2 separate regions of the Homo sapiens genome follow, and region 1 is linked to region 2. The links come from fine-mapping of genetic effects on gene expression. Tissue or cell type: monocytes. Region 2 holds a variant in brackets; the other region holds the start of a gene. All regions are shown on one strand. Distances are from middle to middle.

Region 1 (8,102 bases), 100 kb before region 2:
AAAATATCCCCCTCACCAAGTTAATACTTTTATGGTTGCTGGTGGAGCTTATATTCTCTAAATGTAGAATTTTTTTGGGGGCGGGGGGGAGTATCTTCTCTCTGAATTCTATATCATTATTGGGGTATAATAAAATGTACCTACATGCTCTGGTCAGTCAAGGTTCATCAAGTCAGAAATCACAAATGAATTCACAAATTCTTTGCTCTAAAGTCATATAACAATGCAGATATTAAATTGCTTGTCTAACTATACCATTAGATTCCTTTTTCACTCCATTATCGGCACACACACACACTTCTCTCGGCATCCAGGCATTCACAGGTATCCAGTTCCTAAAGCGCCCAGCACGACTGCTTTGTCCAGGTAAGCAACAGTGGGACATAAGGAGAGGCTGTGGGGCCCCTCTTCAAATAGCTTCGACAAAACGAATGGCTATAAGTGAAAAGTGTCCCTGGGCTTTGCTATAAAAAGACTCAAACATGGGATTCCAAGAATTCCACCTGTTTCCAATTAGATACCAGAATTGCTTGAGTGTTTAAGCTACACTCGCTTGCTACTTACACAAAACAATTCTTCCGGGTTTTGTGAACATTTTAAATATGTTAAAATAAGATTAAGGGTCTGGTTTAAACAATCGGAGGCAGGGAAATTTCGGTGGAAACCAAAACTCTCTCTCTGCAGCGATAACGCGGGGCTTCAGACAAAACAAAAGGACAAGACAGACAAATTTCTGTCTTTGACAATTATAATAAAAGTCACTTTTCATAGAGCAATTACATTTTTTAAAGTTATGTATTCAATAATTTTAAATAGGTCTTAAGTAATTTCTACAATAACTCACGATCCTGGATCCTGTATATTTGAATAATGGTTAGAGTTGCCTTTTACATACCATTTGTGTTACAATTCGTCAGATATACCTGTCTGTGAAATTTACATGTGACAAATGTGTAAACTATTTGAAATGGAAGCACGGGTAGGAATTTAACCTACCTCTGTAGGATTCTTCATATGATGAATTTCTCTGCTTACGAAATGTATGAGTTTTCCCCTAACAAACGTGTCCTTCCTTCATTTCACTAAAAACAGACGTTCCTGGGGCATTACAGAGGAGCTGAAACAAATGTGGATTTTCTACTTCTAGTCTTGTGTTCTCTCCTAAGACACAGAAAGTGAGTACAGCCTCAGGAGTGGTTTTGATTGTTTACTGCTACAGGTAGACCCAGAAGGGAATCAGAGAGCACAAACTACTGTTCCTTCACAGCTCCCATATAAACCCTGATGGGTTTGTCTTAATTGTACAAAAACAGGAGACTTTTTAAATAGCCATTAAAGGTTTCAGGCTCAGCACAGTTCACCAGACTGCATTTTTAAGGTTAGCTCAGTGGATTTAGGAGAGAATCATTCCTGAAGGTATTGGACTATTTGGCCCTTTCAGCTTTCTTAGGTTGGCTAACTACCGACAGAAGATACACGAAGCCGAGGATGTAGTCAAAGGGCTCTCTGTGGACTCAACTGTACCAGGAGTTGTTGCATTAACTCACCACTTGCACCTTTAAGGAAAAAAAGAGTTTCACATAGGAAAAAACTTAAATCAACTGCCAATGACCCCTTCCCACATCCAACCTCAAAGACACCCATATTAAAAGAACCAAGAAAACAAAAGCAGGAGCAGCAGTGGTGTAATTTCTTGAACTGCTCTTTTATAAAGGGTACTAGATGGGACATTTTAATTAAAATAATATACTTATTATGGCAAACAGTACTGGACAGCCAGTAACATACACACTTCCACAACAGGGGGAAAAAAAGCCATCAGAAAATGGACTTTCAGCAAAACTGAAATTGTTTTTTGATTCTGAAAAAGAAGGCAACTTTTCAAGTTTACTTTTGCAGAAGCTGCTTAAAGGGGAAGGCTGGTCACCATGTGGGAATAATGTCCCAAAGGGAAGGCAGTCATTGGCGGGCCCCGTCCCAAAGAGTTCAAAGCTCCACTAACATACAGAGTGCCATGAGCTTTGTCTTAGAAAGTGTCCTCCTTTCAAATATGTATTTAAAAGACAAATTTATACAACAGTGCTTTTCTTATTTAAAAAGAAAAGAAAACCTGGTTTTTACAAGTCTGAGATAGGATAAAAAACTTGTCCAACTAGTCTTAGCAATACCAAAGCACTGAAACTTCCATACCACAAGCCTTTGGGACTAAAAAGGAAACGGAATAAAACACAATCTTCAGAAATTCTCTTCCTGAGCACACACTCCTGTGCCAAGGCAGCAGCTTCAAGACCCAGGAAGCCGAGGGACAAGAACCCAGTGAGCCAGGGTTGCAGAACTGCGGAACGGCCCAACCTCACCTGGACCCGCTGACGTCTCCAACCTGGATTTCTCTCTGCAAAGACCGATCAGCCTCTTTACCCCCAGGTGGCAACCCAATCTCAGTATAAAGAGGTCTGGAAAAATGAGAAAAATCTGGAACTAATGAATTCTCTCCCAAACTCGTTCTATTGACTCACTGACTATCGGTGGGAATTAACCAGACACCAACTCCAAAGGCCTCCTCACCGCCCAGAGAAAGAACCAGATTGGCCTGAGACTTGAACTTTGACATTCCGTATTCGACTAAAGTTTGCAAACCCATAGGAAATCATCTAAGGCCAAATCGTTAGCAACCACCAAAAGCAAAGGAGTAAAGAGGAATGAAGTTCAAATAAGGGACTTTGTTTTGGGGTTTGGTTTTGATTTCTTCTTAATATCCACATAAAGTGCAAGTAAACTGACATGGAAACTTTCGATGGAACCCTGGAGCCCTGATCCCCTGAAGAAGTAGCTAATATGGGGGACAGGAAGGTTTAGAGTTCTTAAAATCTAGTAACTCTAGAAACCAAATCCATTTTCCAGGCAATTTTGCCAGGATGCTTTAAAAAAGACACTTCATTGATATTAAGCTAGGATGTCACATTTAGGAAGACAAGAGAGAAAAATAATAATAATGTTTGTCCTTAAAACTCCACAACGGGTTTTACAGTAAGCACAGGAATTAAATTATGGTAAAAGGGAGCTATTTTTACTAAAACAGGGTAGACCAATTTATCAAAAATGCCATTCGGCTGTGTTCATTACATCCAGGAATCTAATTTACACAATAGACACTTTGGAGTAATCTATTTTAGTCAATAAATACTTAAACTCCTTTAAGTTTTAATCTTATCGGAAATACATATTTCGCATAGTCTTCTTCCTAGTTAAGCGAGAAATTTCAGGAAATTTCATAACGACTATGACTCGGCTTTATCGTTCTTAGTAGGCAAGAGCAGAAAACAAGCATATACAATTAAAGTTGTCAGATTCCATTTAAATATGTTTTAATCCAACCCGCTTCGTTTGATACAAGCCTGCATCTCGAGCTTTGCTCCCAAAGGTATTGCGGTAGGTCACTGTCACCAGTCCTCCAGGTTAGGAAAGTTCAGCCAAGTTTATCTTCACGCACACCTTAGCAGTTGGGAGTAGCTGCAGTTCCCCAGGGGCCCTGAGGAACCCTCCTATCCCCTCCCAGAGCACCAGGCCGCCCTAGAGCATTCTAAGCCGCGGGACCCGGGCACCCCCCGACATCCCCGGTTCCCTCCGCGCCTGCAACCTCGGGACTTCTGGCCCACACGCCGCTCACCTTCAACCTGGCTCCGGCTACGCACAACATCCACCTGGCAGAGTCCCGGGGCTGTCCCGGCGCCGCGGGCGCCGAGCTGGCACGTGCGGGGCGGACCCTAAGGGTGCGCCGCTCCTCCGGGCGGGGGGTGGCAGGCAGGCACTCGCCCCTTGGGCACGGCGGCGACTCGGGCGCGGGCCGGGGAGCCCCGGCACGGTCCCCCCGCGGCGCCGGGGACTCCGCGCGCGGACCACCGCCCGGCATGCCACGGTCCCAACGGGCCCCCGGGGCTCTGCTTTCGAGAACCCGGCCCGAGAAGGCATCTCCGAGCGCACCCGCCGCGCGCTCCATGGCGGGCCCTGCAGAGAGGGCAGAAGCCCCGAGGGGACGCAAGGAAGGGACCCGGCGCCGCAGGTCACCGGGGGCCGCCGGAGCCCCCAGGCGCGCGGCGATCGCGGCTCGGACCGGCGGCGGGGAGGCAGCGTACACTGCCCGGGCACCCGGGGGAACAGCTTGGGGCCTGCCTAGGGGAAAGTTGCAGCCTCCTCCTCCCGCGCCCGCACCCGGCGGTCCGGGACACCGGGACCCAGCGACACTGCGCGCGGGGCACCCCCGCCGCCCCTCGCCAAGTTTCCCCAAAGAGCCCCCGCGGGGGTCCGCCACGGAGGAACAGGTCCGCGTCACCGACACAGGCACACAAAAGAGCGCGGCGGCCGCGAGGTGCGCGGGTGGCCCCGGGGCGCTCCCCGGGACGTAAACAAACCCGGGGGTCCGCGCCGGGAGCCACACGCGGGGTGCCGGAGCGGCGGCGCGGCCCGGGCCGGTGACAGCCGGGGGCGGCGGCCGGGGCCGGCCGGGGGTAGCGAGCGCGGGCGCCTGCCCGGCCACCCGCCCGCCTGGCCGGAGCCGGGCCGCGCCGCCGCCGCCGCCGCCGGTGGCCGCTCTGACCCTCCCCCGAGCCGGCGGCACCACAGCGCCACCAGCCCCAGCTCCGCCGCGCCGGCGGCAGTGGCGGCGGCTCCTCCTGGAGAGGCAGGCGCTTCACCCCCCGCAGCAACTCCCCACAAACTTTCCCCGGGAATACGGCGGGCCGGGGGCGCGGGGCGAGCGGGCGGGCGGGCGCCACCGCCGGGCCGCGGCCCCCTCCCGGCGCCCGCCGCCGCCCGCCCCCCGCCGCCCGCTCCCCGCTCCCCGCTCGCGCGCGCACCCCGCGGGCCGCCGGGGCCGCCCCCTCCCCGGTCCCGCGGCGGCAACGGCGGCGGCGGCGCTGGCGGCGGCGGCGGCGCGGGGCCCGGGGGGGCGCCCGGGGTGGGGGCAGACACCGGGGGCAGTGGTGGCGGCGGCGGCTCCCGGCGCCATCTTGGGCTGATCGATGAATTGAACAAAGAGGATCAATTTCCGATCAAGCGAGTGATCAATGGGGGCCGGGGAGCGGGAGGGACTCGGCCCCGACTCGGCCCCGCGGTGCCCGGCACCCCCCTCCTCCCCGCCGCCGCGGGCCCCCCGGCGGCTGGGCCAGCCCGGGGCCCCCGGCGGAGGCCGCGACCGCCCGCAGCCCCCACCCCCGGGCGCGAGGCCGAGCGCGGAGGAGCCTGACCTGCAGCTGCTGTAAATCAAAGCGCTTCCAATATTGAAACATCGATCCCACATTGGCCGCCATCTTGAGACATATTGAGACGGAGTGAGCGGCTGATAGAGAGGGGGCTGGAGTTCAGGAGCCGCCAGGAGGCAGCAGGCGGGCGGCGCCAAAACCCGGCCTGGAGCCGGCCGCCGCCGCCGCCACCGAGGACGCGGACTCCTCCTCACGGCACCGCCGCAGCCATGGCGAGCCCGAGCCGGAGCCGGAGTCGCAGCCCCAGGGCGCGGCGGCCGCGGCCCGGCCTCGCGCGCGCGGCCCCGGCCCCTGCTCCCCCAACCCCCCCACCGCCGCCCTCCCCCTCCCCTCCGCGGGCCGACCGGCGACCCCCGCCCCTCGGGACAACCCCCCCCAAAGTCCGCGGTCGCGCCGGCCACAGACCCGGCCCCGAGGGGGCGCTGGAGGGCAGCGCCCGGGGTCCCCCGGCACCGCGCACCTGGGGAGGGCTGCGGGGGTGGGGGGGGTCTCCCGCTGGGATCGCGATCGCCCGCGGTGGCCGAGCGCAGCGCCTTCAAGACTCCGGTTGGGGGGAACGTCGGAGCGCCCCTGTAGTGGTTAGTGTACAGAGCGCGGAGACGCCGCTACCACCTGCCCGGGACCCCCCACACCCGACCCCTGCGTGGCCCAGGCCCCCCGCAGCAGCGTGCGTGGGAGGCGCCCCGACGGTGGACGGCAACACTCTGATCCCTCTGCGCCCAGCGAGGACCGGGACACCGACACGACCAGGAACAGCGTGGCATGTTTGGAGGAGTGGAGTTGAGGGGGAAACAGCCCTGACCCTCTCAGGGGGCCGCGCGCGTGGATGCCCCACACCCGGACAGCGGCGGTGCCAGCGTCGCACCCGAACGCACCCCAACGGCGGTAGCGCTGGGGGTCCCGGCAGCCCCCATTCGCCCAAGCCGTTCCAGTTTAGGCCACGACAGGAAAAGTCTGGGAGCCCAGTTCTGTGTCCCCCCGCGCCGCTTCAGCGGAACAGCCCAAGAAACTTCCTGTGGTTCAGACACCTTGGTTTGTTGCAACTTTGGGCGCAGAAAGTTGGAAAGTGTGGGTGCACTCACTGAAAACGGAAAGCGTGGTCCCAAGTTTACAGAAATGCTAAAATGCAAACCAAAAAATAAATTCTCTTTTGATTTCTCTCCTCGCGGAAAGCTGGCGAAAGCACACGTTTTATGATCGTCATCTTTCATTGATTATACACACGTGTGACTTGGAGTTTCCAGTAGGAATACTGTTCTTTGACTCTCCCGTACTTCACTGAACGAGTAATTAGTTAAAACAAGTCCCCAAATTCCTTAATCTCAAAATGCATATGTAAATAGAATCTGCATAGGATACAAAATAAAACGCGCAAGTGGAAAACAATTGCTTTTCAAGTGAGTTCGAGGGTTGGCGCAGTGAATTCGGCATTTTTGGAGGAAGAGGCTGGAAATGAAAGTCCCAAGATTTAGAGAACACGCGTGTCCCCAGGTCTTGCGCAGCTGGCCAGGGGCCTCAGTTTCCCCAAGGGGAGGCCCCTGATGTCGGGAACGGGGTTCACTGTCTCCCCAACGCAACCTTGACTCGCCGGTGGGTGGGAGCGCGCTGGCGTCGGGGGGCACGTTGCGAGCCTCCACCCTAGATGCGGTGACGCCGCGCACAGCAGGGCACTGTGGATCTCGGGTGGCCAAGGGCTGCCTCCGTGTGGGGCGCCCCGGCCCGCGCGCTCAGTCGGCCGGCCGCCGCGCTGTAGCTCCGACCGCGCCGCCCGGTAGAGGGCAGCGGCGCCCCGACACTCGGGTCCTCGGGTCCTCGGGTCCCCGCGCACGTGCCCACCGGCGCGCCCAGGCCCCCGCGCCTGCCACGCCCTGTCCCGGAGTCAGGCTTCTGGCGGGAAGCGGCATTGCCACCGAGGGACATTCCTGTCCCGGGGAAATGCGACTTCTAAGGATGCCTGCACACTCGGGGAGGCGGCGGGGGTGGGGGGGGGGGTGCTTCCGCCTTCCCCTGGCATGTCTATTTCTGCGGTGGCAGGCAGGCGAGACCTAGGAATTGCGCTAAAGGTGGCTAGACAAAATGTGCAGGGGCTTAAAAAAAAAAAGAAATCCCTCCCATGGGGAAGGCTCAAGGAAGGATCAGGGAAATGGTTTGGATTTGATGCAGATGTTCTCAATCTAATTATCGTGTAGATCCCCTGGGTTTGAACCAAAAAAGTGAAATATATATGACCTGTGTAATACTCCCGAAATACATCTGGTTGGAATTCAGTATTCTGAATCCATGGCAATATTTTAGAAATAAATCTGATGACTATTAAATACCGTTGTTACATTTCTGGTTATATTTATATTATTTACATGCTAACCTGACTTAGTACAGACACACTATATTGGATGGCCCAGAGGTTAACCTCTATTTAAATACAGTTGAGTTCTCCCACCAAAGTTTTGGGTTACATAAACCTTGTTGCTCTCTGCAGGGGGTGGTGGGAAGGGAGGAGTTTAGAATAACTTTCACCAGCACCATAAAACGTTACTTTGTAAAAAGAAATTCATTCAAAATAAACCACTGATCAAAAGTTATCTGCGTTGAGTGAAACAGCAGAGACCTAAAAAAAACTTTTTAAAGTGCACTTTATTTTTCTTGAGCAAGTATAGACACAGAATAAAAGCAAATTGTATTTATTTCCAAAGACTATTTTGTTTCTTTTGTATTGTTTCAGATTGATTTTTAGCCCCACCATTGTAAAAACCCAGGAGTACCCACTGGCAGAGTGGATCTACAAAGATGTGCGCTGCATAAAATATTTACAAAATATTTTATAGGTTTTAGGACCTAGATTTC
Region 2 (8,102 bases):
AGGATGGGGACATTGCCTGTCACACTGAGAACATCATACGTCACTCTCGTGGCACCTGCACTGGGCTGTGTCTGAGAGAGATGCCATTGTACCCCAGTTAAAGATGAGAAGGCCAGGCACGGTGGCTCACGCCTGTAATCCCAGCACTTTGGGAGGCTGAGGCAGGTGGATCACCTGAGGTCAGGAGTTCAAGACCAGTCTGGCCAACATGGTGAAACCCCGTCTCTACCAAAAATACAAAAATTAGCCAGGCGTGGTGGCACGCACCTGTAATCCCAGCTACTCGGGAGGCTGAGGCAGCAGAATCACTTGAACTCAGGAGGCGGAGGTTGCAGTGAGCTGAGATTGTACCATTGCATTCCAGCCTGGGTGACAGAGCGAGATTGTCTCAAAAAAAAAAAAAAAAAAAAAGAGAAGACAAGGCCTGGGGAAGCGAGGTTGTCCACTTCAGAGGCAGGACTAAAACCCCAACCTGGTGGCTGGCTGTGCTTGGGGGGCCTTTCTCCACCACGCCACAATGTCATCTCTTGACTAGAAACTGTAGGCCACTGCCTCTTTCTGCAGGGCAGGAATTGGAAGCCTGGAATTGATAGATAACTTCCTCCTGATGGCAGAATATGTTAGGGTCAGGGCTGGGGCTGCCACAGCATCCGTCTCCCGACTCCCATCCCAGGGCCCCTTTCTATTTCATGGTTGCTTCACCATGGGCCCCTATACCCAGGCAACGTTGGTCTTTGGCATGGGAGGGGAGGCAGGTGGCAGACAGGAAGCCACACTGGAGTGTTGGTGAGGGGCAGGGGCTGGATCCCTCCCACCTCACGCAGGGGAGCTCCAATGAGGTTTCCTGCCCAGAAAGTAAAGGAGGGCCGGTCCTGACACTTGAGGTGCCCCAGGCAGGAGAGAGATCACAGGGATGGCTGCCTTGGGCTCTGCACCTGTGAGCAGCAAGTCTTCTCATCTGTAAAATGGGATGATCACAGTGCCTGCCACACAGGACAGGAGAGAGCATCAGGTGAGCCCCAGCTGCGAGTCAGAGGAAACCATTCCGTCCCCAACCTTGTCTGTCTGAAGATGGCAGGGCTGGCAGCTTCTCCTCTGTTTGGAGGTGGTGATGTGATCATATAAAGGCAGGGGCTTGGGCCGGGCGCGGTGGTTCACACCTGTAATCCCAGCACTTTGGGAGGCTGAGGCAGGACAATCACTTGATTCCAGAAGTTCAAGACCAATGTGGGCAACATAGTGTCTCTACAAATAATGAAAGAAAAAAATGGCCGGGCGCGTTGGTTCACGCCTGTAATCCCAGCACTTTGGAAGGCCGAGGTGGGTAGATCACCTGACCTGAGGTCAGGAGTTCGAGATCAGCCTGGCCAACATGGTGAAACCCCATCTCTACTAAAAAATACAAAAAAATTAGCCGGGTGTGGTGGCGCATGCCTGTAATCCCAGCTACTTGGGAGGCTAAGGCAGGAGAATCACTTGAACTCGGGAGGTGAAGGTTGCAGTGAGCCAAGATTGTGCCACTGCACTCCGGCCTGGGTGACAGAGCGAGCCTCTGTCTCAAGAAAAAAAAAATTGAAAATAAATAAATAAAGCCAGTTATGGTGGCGCACGCCTGTGTGGTCCTGGCTACTTGGGAGACTGAGGTGGGAGGATCACTGGAGGCCAGGGGCTTGAGACTGCAGTGAGCTATGATTTTGCCACTGCACTCCAGCCTGGGTGACAGAGTGAGACTTTGTCTGGAAAAAAAACCCAAACAAGCCACAAAACCAAACCAAACCAAAACAAAAAACCATATTCTTGGTTGATGTGTGCCCTGGGAGAATGTCTGAGTGACTCTAAGGGTCCGATTGAAGCGGAGGATCGTTGTCCCCATGACAGAGGGACACAGAGACCATCTGGGTCCTGTGTGGCCGATTTCTAGGAAGATCCCAAAGTCCAAGCAAGCCCCTCCCCATCTGTCCTCCCTCTCACCTCTGTAGACTGGTTCTGAGAAAGGGCCCCTCCTCGTCCAGCTCCTCCCAGCTCGGGCCCCAGTCCTGGGGTGTCTACTTCCCAGCGTCCTTAGTCCCATGCCCCCTCCGCCTTCTCATCCTGGCGGTTGTCCTCACTTAGGTTATTCTCCGACTTCTTGCACCTCCCACCTCCTCCTACCCACCCCTAGAACTCTTCCCTAGCTGCTGCCAGACCGATCCTGAGAAGGGGCTCAAAGTCCCTTGGTATATGTGTAACTGCAGGGATCAAAGACCTTCTGTGGCTCCCCAGTGCCCCAAGGGATCTGCACTCGTGGGCTGCCCTGCCCAGGCCTGCCCGGTCCGTGTCTTAATGGCCTGCATTCTGGTTTCCAGGCACACAGTCCTGCTGGCGTACCCGATGCGTTCTCCGCGTTCTCCATGTTCTTCCTTCTCCCTGGGTGTTCTTCCCGGCACCTCCCCGCCTGTCCCATCCAGGGCTGGGGATCCTGTGCTCTCTTTCCTCATGAACTCCCATCCTCATGAACTCCCACCAGACCCCTAGTTGGAACCACCTCTCCGGAACACTCTGGGGATAAGCGTGTTGGGGTGGAACGGGGAGGGTGGATGGGCACCGAGCTGGTTCTCAGCTGGGGCTCTGGTTTTCTTTGAGGGAGTCTGATCACTCATCCCTCAGGCCTCCCCAGGGCCCTCCTATGAATCCCCATACCAAGAGGCCTCTGTAGCTGAGCCATTGCCCCTCTTCCCGGGCAGTGGGGCTGTCTGAGGCCCTAGAGTCTCTGCTCTGCCCAGTTTAGTTCATTTCCGGTGTTGCCGGCATGGGGCAGGGCCTCTTACTTGCCCCGGGAGAGCCAGTGGTGGGGAACTCTGCACAGCCCTCACAAGTGTGGTCGGCGACCTCCCTCCCGGGGACCTCGCCTCCTGGTTTCGGGAGGCGCTACCCCGCCCTCCACCCTGTGTAGCCTTTTAGAGAGGCGATTGAGTTCAGACAAAGTCTTGGATCAGGGCTGAACCGAATCAAACATCCTGGAGCACCCCTACTCCCCGACCTGCCCCCCATCTCTCTGGGTGTTGAAGCTGCCCCTCCGGTGATCAACACGCTTGCCCAC[C/G]CCCGGGGAAATGTGAATGTGGTCTGGGCCATGATTCACCACCGTTGCTTCCATGAGGTCATCTGCGGCCTCTTTCCCCCACGGGGCTGGCGCAGGGGGCTGGACCGGCTGGTCCCCCTCTCTCCCTCCCTCTGCCGGGCAGGAGGGAAGGCAGGAAGACAGGCTATCTGTGCCACCATCTAATTACCCCGGGAGGTAATTGCTCGGGATTTTCTCTGACATCTTGAGATTTCTCTCTGAGCCTTCCACAGTGGAGACAAATAACCCTTAAGGAGGCTACGGGCCCCAAGACAGGGCCTATTGCTAAACCCTGACAACTCCCCATCAGCCCCGCCGCGACGTGCCCGAGCTTTGAGACAGCGTGAGTTTATGACAGGTCCCATTAAGTCTCTTGCACAAGCACTGAGTGTTGAAATACCCAACAGATGATGACAGTGTTGAAATAACCTGTCGTCTCAGCACTTTCCCCACCATTAGCCAGATGTTCCAGCCCTCAAAAGCGTTCGCAGCCTTTTGCAGGGAGGGAGGGGGCTCGGATTAAGGCAGCCCAGGTCCCAGTGGGAGTATGGTTCGGGGGGTCTGGGGCTGAGGGCAGCTGGGGTTCCCAAGAGAACAGGGTGAGGGGTGGTCTAGGATTGGAAGGATGTGAGAACAGGCAGAAGGGGGCATGGGTGCAGCTGTCCCTTCATCCCAGAGTCCACAATCACTGTGGAAGGGGTGCAAGGGCAGAGACGGCTCTGTGCCCTCTAGATGTGGGACTGTTTTTGGAGGGAATCTTGTGTGGCTCAGAGAGGTGATTTCTCAAGACCCAACCAGGAAAGGATGAGACCTTGTCTTTTTTTTTTTTTTTTTTTTTTTTGAGACAGAGTCTTGCTCTGTTACCCAGGCTGGAGTGCAGTGGCGCCATCTCAGCTCACTGCAACTTCTGCTTCCTGGATTCAAGCAACTCTCCTGCCTCAGCCTCCTGAGTAGCTGAGATTACAGGCGTGTGCCACCACGCCCGGTTAATTTTTTGTATTTTTAGTAGAGACAGGGCTTCCTCATGGTAGCCAGGTGGGTCTCAAACTCCTGACCTCAGGTGATCTGCCCACCTCAGCCTCCCAAAGTGCTGGGATTACAAGCATGAGCCACTGCGCCCAGCCGGCCTTGTCTTTTAAAAATTATTATTAGGCTGGCATGGTGGCTCACACCTGTAATCCCAGCACTCTGGGAGGCTGAGGCGGGCAGATCACCTGAGGTCAGGAGTTCGAGACCAGCCTGGCCAACATGGTGAAGCCCCGTCTCTACTAAAAATACAAAAGTTAGCCAGGCATGGTGGCGCATGCCTGTGATCCCAGCTACTCGGGAGGCTGAGGCAGAAGAATCACTTGAACCTGGGAGGCAGAGGTTGCAGTGAGCTAAAATCATGCCACTACACTCTTGCCCGGGCAACAGAGTGAGAATCCATCTCAAAAAAAAAATTATTATTATGCATATTTTATTTACATATAGATGAGGTCTTGCTATGTTGCCCAGGTTGGAGTGCAGTCATGCGATCTTGCCTCACCGCAGCCTATGCCTCCTGGGTTCAAGAGATTCTCCTGCTTCAGGCTCCCGAGTAGCTGGGACTACAGGTGTGCACCACCACACCTAGCTAATTTTTGTATTTTTAGTAGAGATGGGGTTTCACATGTTGGCCAGGCTGGTCTCGAACCCCTGACCTCAGGTGATCTGCCCACCTCAGCCTCCCAGAGTGTTGGGATTACAGCTGTGAGCCACTGTGCCAGGCCAACAGCCTCCTTCTCTTATTCATCTTTGTGATCCGAGACAGAGGTCCCTGCCAGGGATGCTGAGAAAGCCCAGCATGTGAGTGGGTGGAAGGGAGGGGACAAGAGAAGATGTGTGGATCAGGGGAAGCCATGGTGGCATGCATTTGGGGTCCACTGAGTCGCCCATGTTGCCCTCATTTCTTCCAGGCTGTCTTGACTGGGGACTCCAAGTGCATGTTCGTTTTTTTTTTTGTTTTTTTTTTTTTTTGAGATGGAGTTTGGCTCTGTCGCCCAGGCTGGAATGCAAGCGGCACGATCTCGGCTCACTGCAAGCTCCGCCTCCCGGGTTCGTGCCATTCTCCTGCCTCAGCCTCCCGAGTAGCTGGGACTACAGGCGCCCGCCACCAGGCCCAGCTAATTTTTTGTATTTTTAGTAGAGCCGGGGTTTCACCATGTTAGCCAGGATGGTCTCGATCTCCTGACCTTGTGATCCACCCGCCTCGGCCTCCCAAAGTGCTGGGATTACAGGCGTGAGCCACCGCGCCCGGCTCCAAGTGCATGTTCAAAGTTGGGTCAGGAAGACCCCGCTTCCTCCTGGGGCACATGGCAGGGCATTGGAAGTGGCCTTTGGGAGACCACACTTTACTTGGGGAGTAGCTAATGATGTAGTCAGCAGGCCAGGGTCCGGGGCCTTCAGATCACTCACTGGAGAGGTTTCAGGAGCCAGGATCCCTGCCTTGGTTTACATCCCAGCTTCATTCTTTTTTTGAGACGGAGTCTTGCTGTGTCGCCAGGCTGTAGTGCAGTGGCATAATCTCGGCCCACTGCAACCTCCACCTCCTGGGTTCAAGCGATTCTTGTGCCTCAGCCTCCCAAGTAGCTGGGATTACAGGCAAGCACCACCACACCCAGCTATTTTTTGTTTTGTATTTTTAGTAATTTTGTATTTTTTTTGTATTTTAGTTTTTTTTTTTTTTTTTTTTTGTATTTTCACCATGTTGGCCAGGATGGTCTTGATCTCCTAACCTTGTGATCCGCCTGCCTCGGCATCCCAAAGTGCTGGGATTACAGGCATGAGCCACTGTGCCTGGCCAGCTCCATTCTTTCATGGGTGACCTCGGGCAATGCCTTCACCTCCTGGTGCCTCAGTTTCCCCATCTGTAAAAGGGAAACCAATAGTTCCAGCTGTGTTTGCTTTATACCTACTGCTTTGTTGCTCACACATGCAAAGGGACTTTCTAATAGCAATGTTGTTAAATAACACTAGGTTTTTTAATGAACATTATAAGGGTTGGTCATTGGAGGTGTTCAAGCCAGGAGGGGACAATTGTCCACTGTTGACAGGACTCCAGCATTAGGTGGGGCTGGGCTGAAAGTTGAGTTCCTCCATCTGTTGCTGATTTGAGGAGTTAAGTGGAGGAGTTTGCAGCTAATAACTGAGCCCCAAGGAGCTCCAGCTGTGAAGAGGATGTAAAATAGAAAAGGGGCTAAGTTTTTTTTTTTTTTTTTTGAGACGGAGTCTCATTCTGTCTCCTAGGCTGGAGTGCAGTGGCGTGATCTTGGCTCACTGCAGCCTCCGCCCCCCAGGTTCAAACGATTCTCCTACCTCAGCCTCCTGAGTAGCTGAGATTACAGGCGCCTGCCAACACACCTAGCTAATTTTTGTATTTGTAGTAGAAACGGGGTTTCACCATATTGGCCAGGCTGGTCTCAAACTCTTGACCTCAAGTGATCCGCCCGCCTCAGCCTCCCAAGGTGCTGGGATTACAGGCGTGAGCCACCACACCTGGCCAAAGATTTTATTTTTAGTACCTTCCCCTTTCTTTTGCTTCTGGAACTCAGTGTCCCCATGCTGTCACTCCCTTTCAGGAAAGGACTGGCTATCAGCCATTCACACCTTAGTAAGAATTGCTTTCCTGGGAACTTGGCTTTCCTGGGCTGGGATGTCTAGGAATTCAGGGATCAGGCTGGGCAGGTAGAACTATGTCTCTGGGCTGAGGCCCAGGCACCCTGGAGATGACAGTGCTGCCATCTTCGGCTGCGTGGGCTCAGCTTGGCTCTGGAGATCAATCCTGCTCTTGTTTGCTCGGAGCACTAGGGTGGCTTTCTGCCAACACCTCCCCTCATCCTCCAGGCTCAGAGGAAGTGGTGGGTCCTGACTGGGGAACCAGCCTGGGGCAGCGAGACAGGCGGTCCTGGGTTCCACAAGCTGTGTGATGTTGGCTGAGTGTCTACTCCTCTCTGAGCTTTAGTTCTGCCATCAGTATTAGGGACTCCGGGAGCATGTGGCTTACAGGGTGACTGTAGGATGTGACATGTTCAGGCATATGGGTGACTGCAGGAGGGGAGCCTGTGGCCATGATGATGCTGGGCTGGGGGACTGGCATGCGATAGGTGTTAACAAGTAGGCACTGGCTGGATTTGAAAGGGCAGTTGCTGGCCAGGAACAGTGGCTCATGCCTGTTATCCCAGCACTGTGGGAAGCAGAGGTGGGTAGATCACTTGAGGCCAGGAGTTCAGGACCAGCCTGGCCAACATGGTGAAACCCTGTCTCTACCGAAAGTATAAAATTAGCCAGGTGTGGTGGTGGGCACCTGTAATCTCAGCTACTTGGGAGGCTTTAGCAGGAGAATCGCTTGAACCCAGGAGGTGGAGGTTGCAGTGAGCTGAGATTGCACCACTGGACTCCAGCCTGGGTGACAGAGCAAGACTCCATCTCAATAATAATAATAATTATAAATGAAAGGGCAGTTGCTCTGCTGAGGAGCTAGGTGGCCAGGGCACTGCTTACCCCAAACCTTAGCTCAACGGGGTGCCAGTTTCAATGTGTTCAACTCCTCCTCTGTCACCGCCTTTCTGGTCTGGGCCACCATCATCTCTCTCCTATACAGATCTTAGAGCCTCCTAACTCATCCCCCATGGATCAGCCTCCCTCTGGCAGCCAGAGTAACCTTTTTGCTTTCCAGAGTAATCTTTAAAAATCCTAAATCAGGCCGGGTGTAGTGGCTTGTGCCTGTAATCCCAGCACTTTGGGAGGCCGAGGTTGGGGGATCACTTGAGCCCAGGAGTTGGAGGCTAAAGTGAGCTATGATTGTACCACTGCACTCCAGCCTGGATGACAGCATGAGACCCTGTCTCTAAAAAATAATAATTAAAAAAATATATATATATGAGGCTGGGTGTGGTGGCTCACACCTGTAAATCCAGCAGTTTGGGAGGCCAAGGTGGGTGGATTACTTGAGGAAAGGAGTTCAAGACCAGCCTGGCCAACATGG

Direction of the effects. Alleles are on the strand shown, and positions count from the first base shown. SD is a standard deviation of normalised expression in the study named.
For the expression in monocytes of the gene that starts at base 3,711 in region 1, allele G in region 2 goes with a higher level than allele C (moderate effect, 0.46 SD a copy in Quach 2016).

What was found. PIP is the estimated chance that this variant, and not a neighbour inherited with it, causes the effect.
Region 1: CUX1 starts here. The variant in region 2 is fine-mapped to the expression of CUX1 in monocytes (Quach 2016, PIP 0.91).

Annotation. Positions count from the first base shown.
Region 1 is chr7:101,813,235-101,821,336 of GRCh38, reverse strand. CUX1 (cut like homeobox 1) reads right to left here and starts at 3,711. Exons shown (of 24, transcript NM_181552.4): 1 at 3,668-3,711. The coding sequence starts at 3,697. RefSeq lists enhancers at 1-251, 4,527-5,455 and silencers at 3,762-3,811, 3,862-3,931, 3,962-4,041, 4,112-4,431, 4,542-4,701 and 3 more.
Region 2 is chr7:101,713,229-101,721,330 of GRCh38, reverse strand. No RefSeq gene overlaps it. Among named protein-coding and RNA genes, the nearest start is that of MYL10, 88 kb to the right of the region's middle. The variant C/G (reference allele first, on the strand shown) is at 3,080.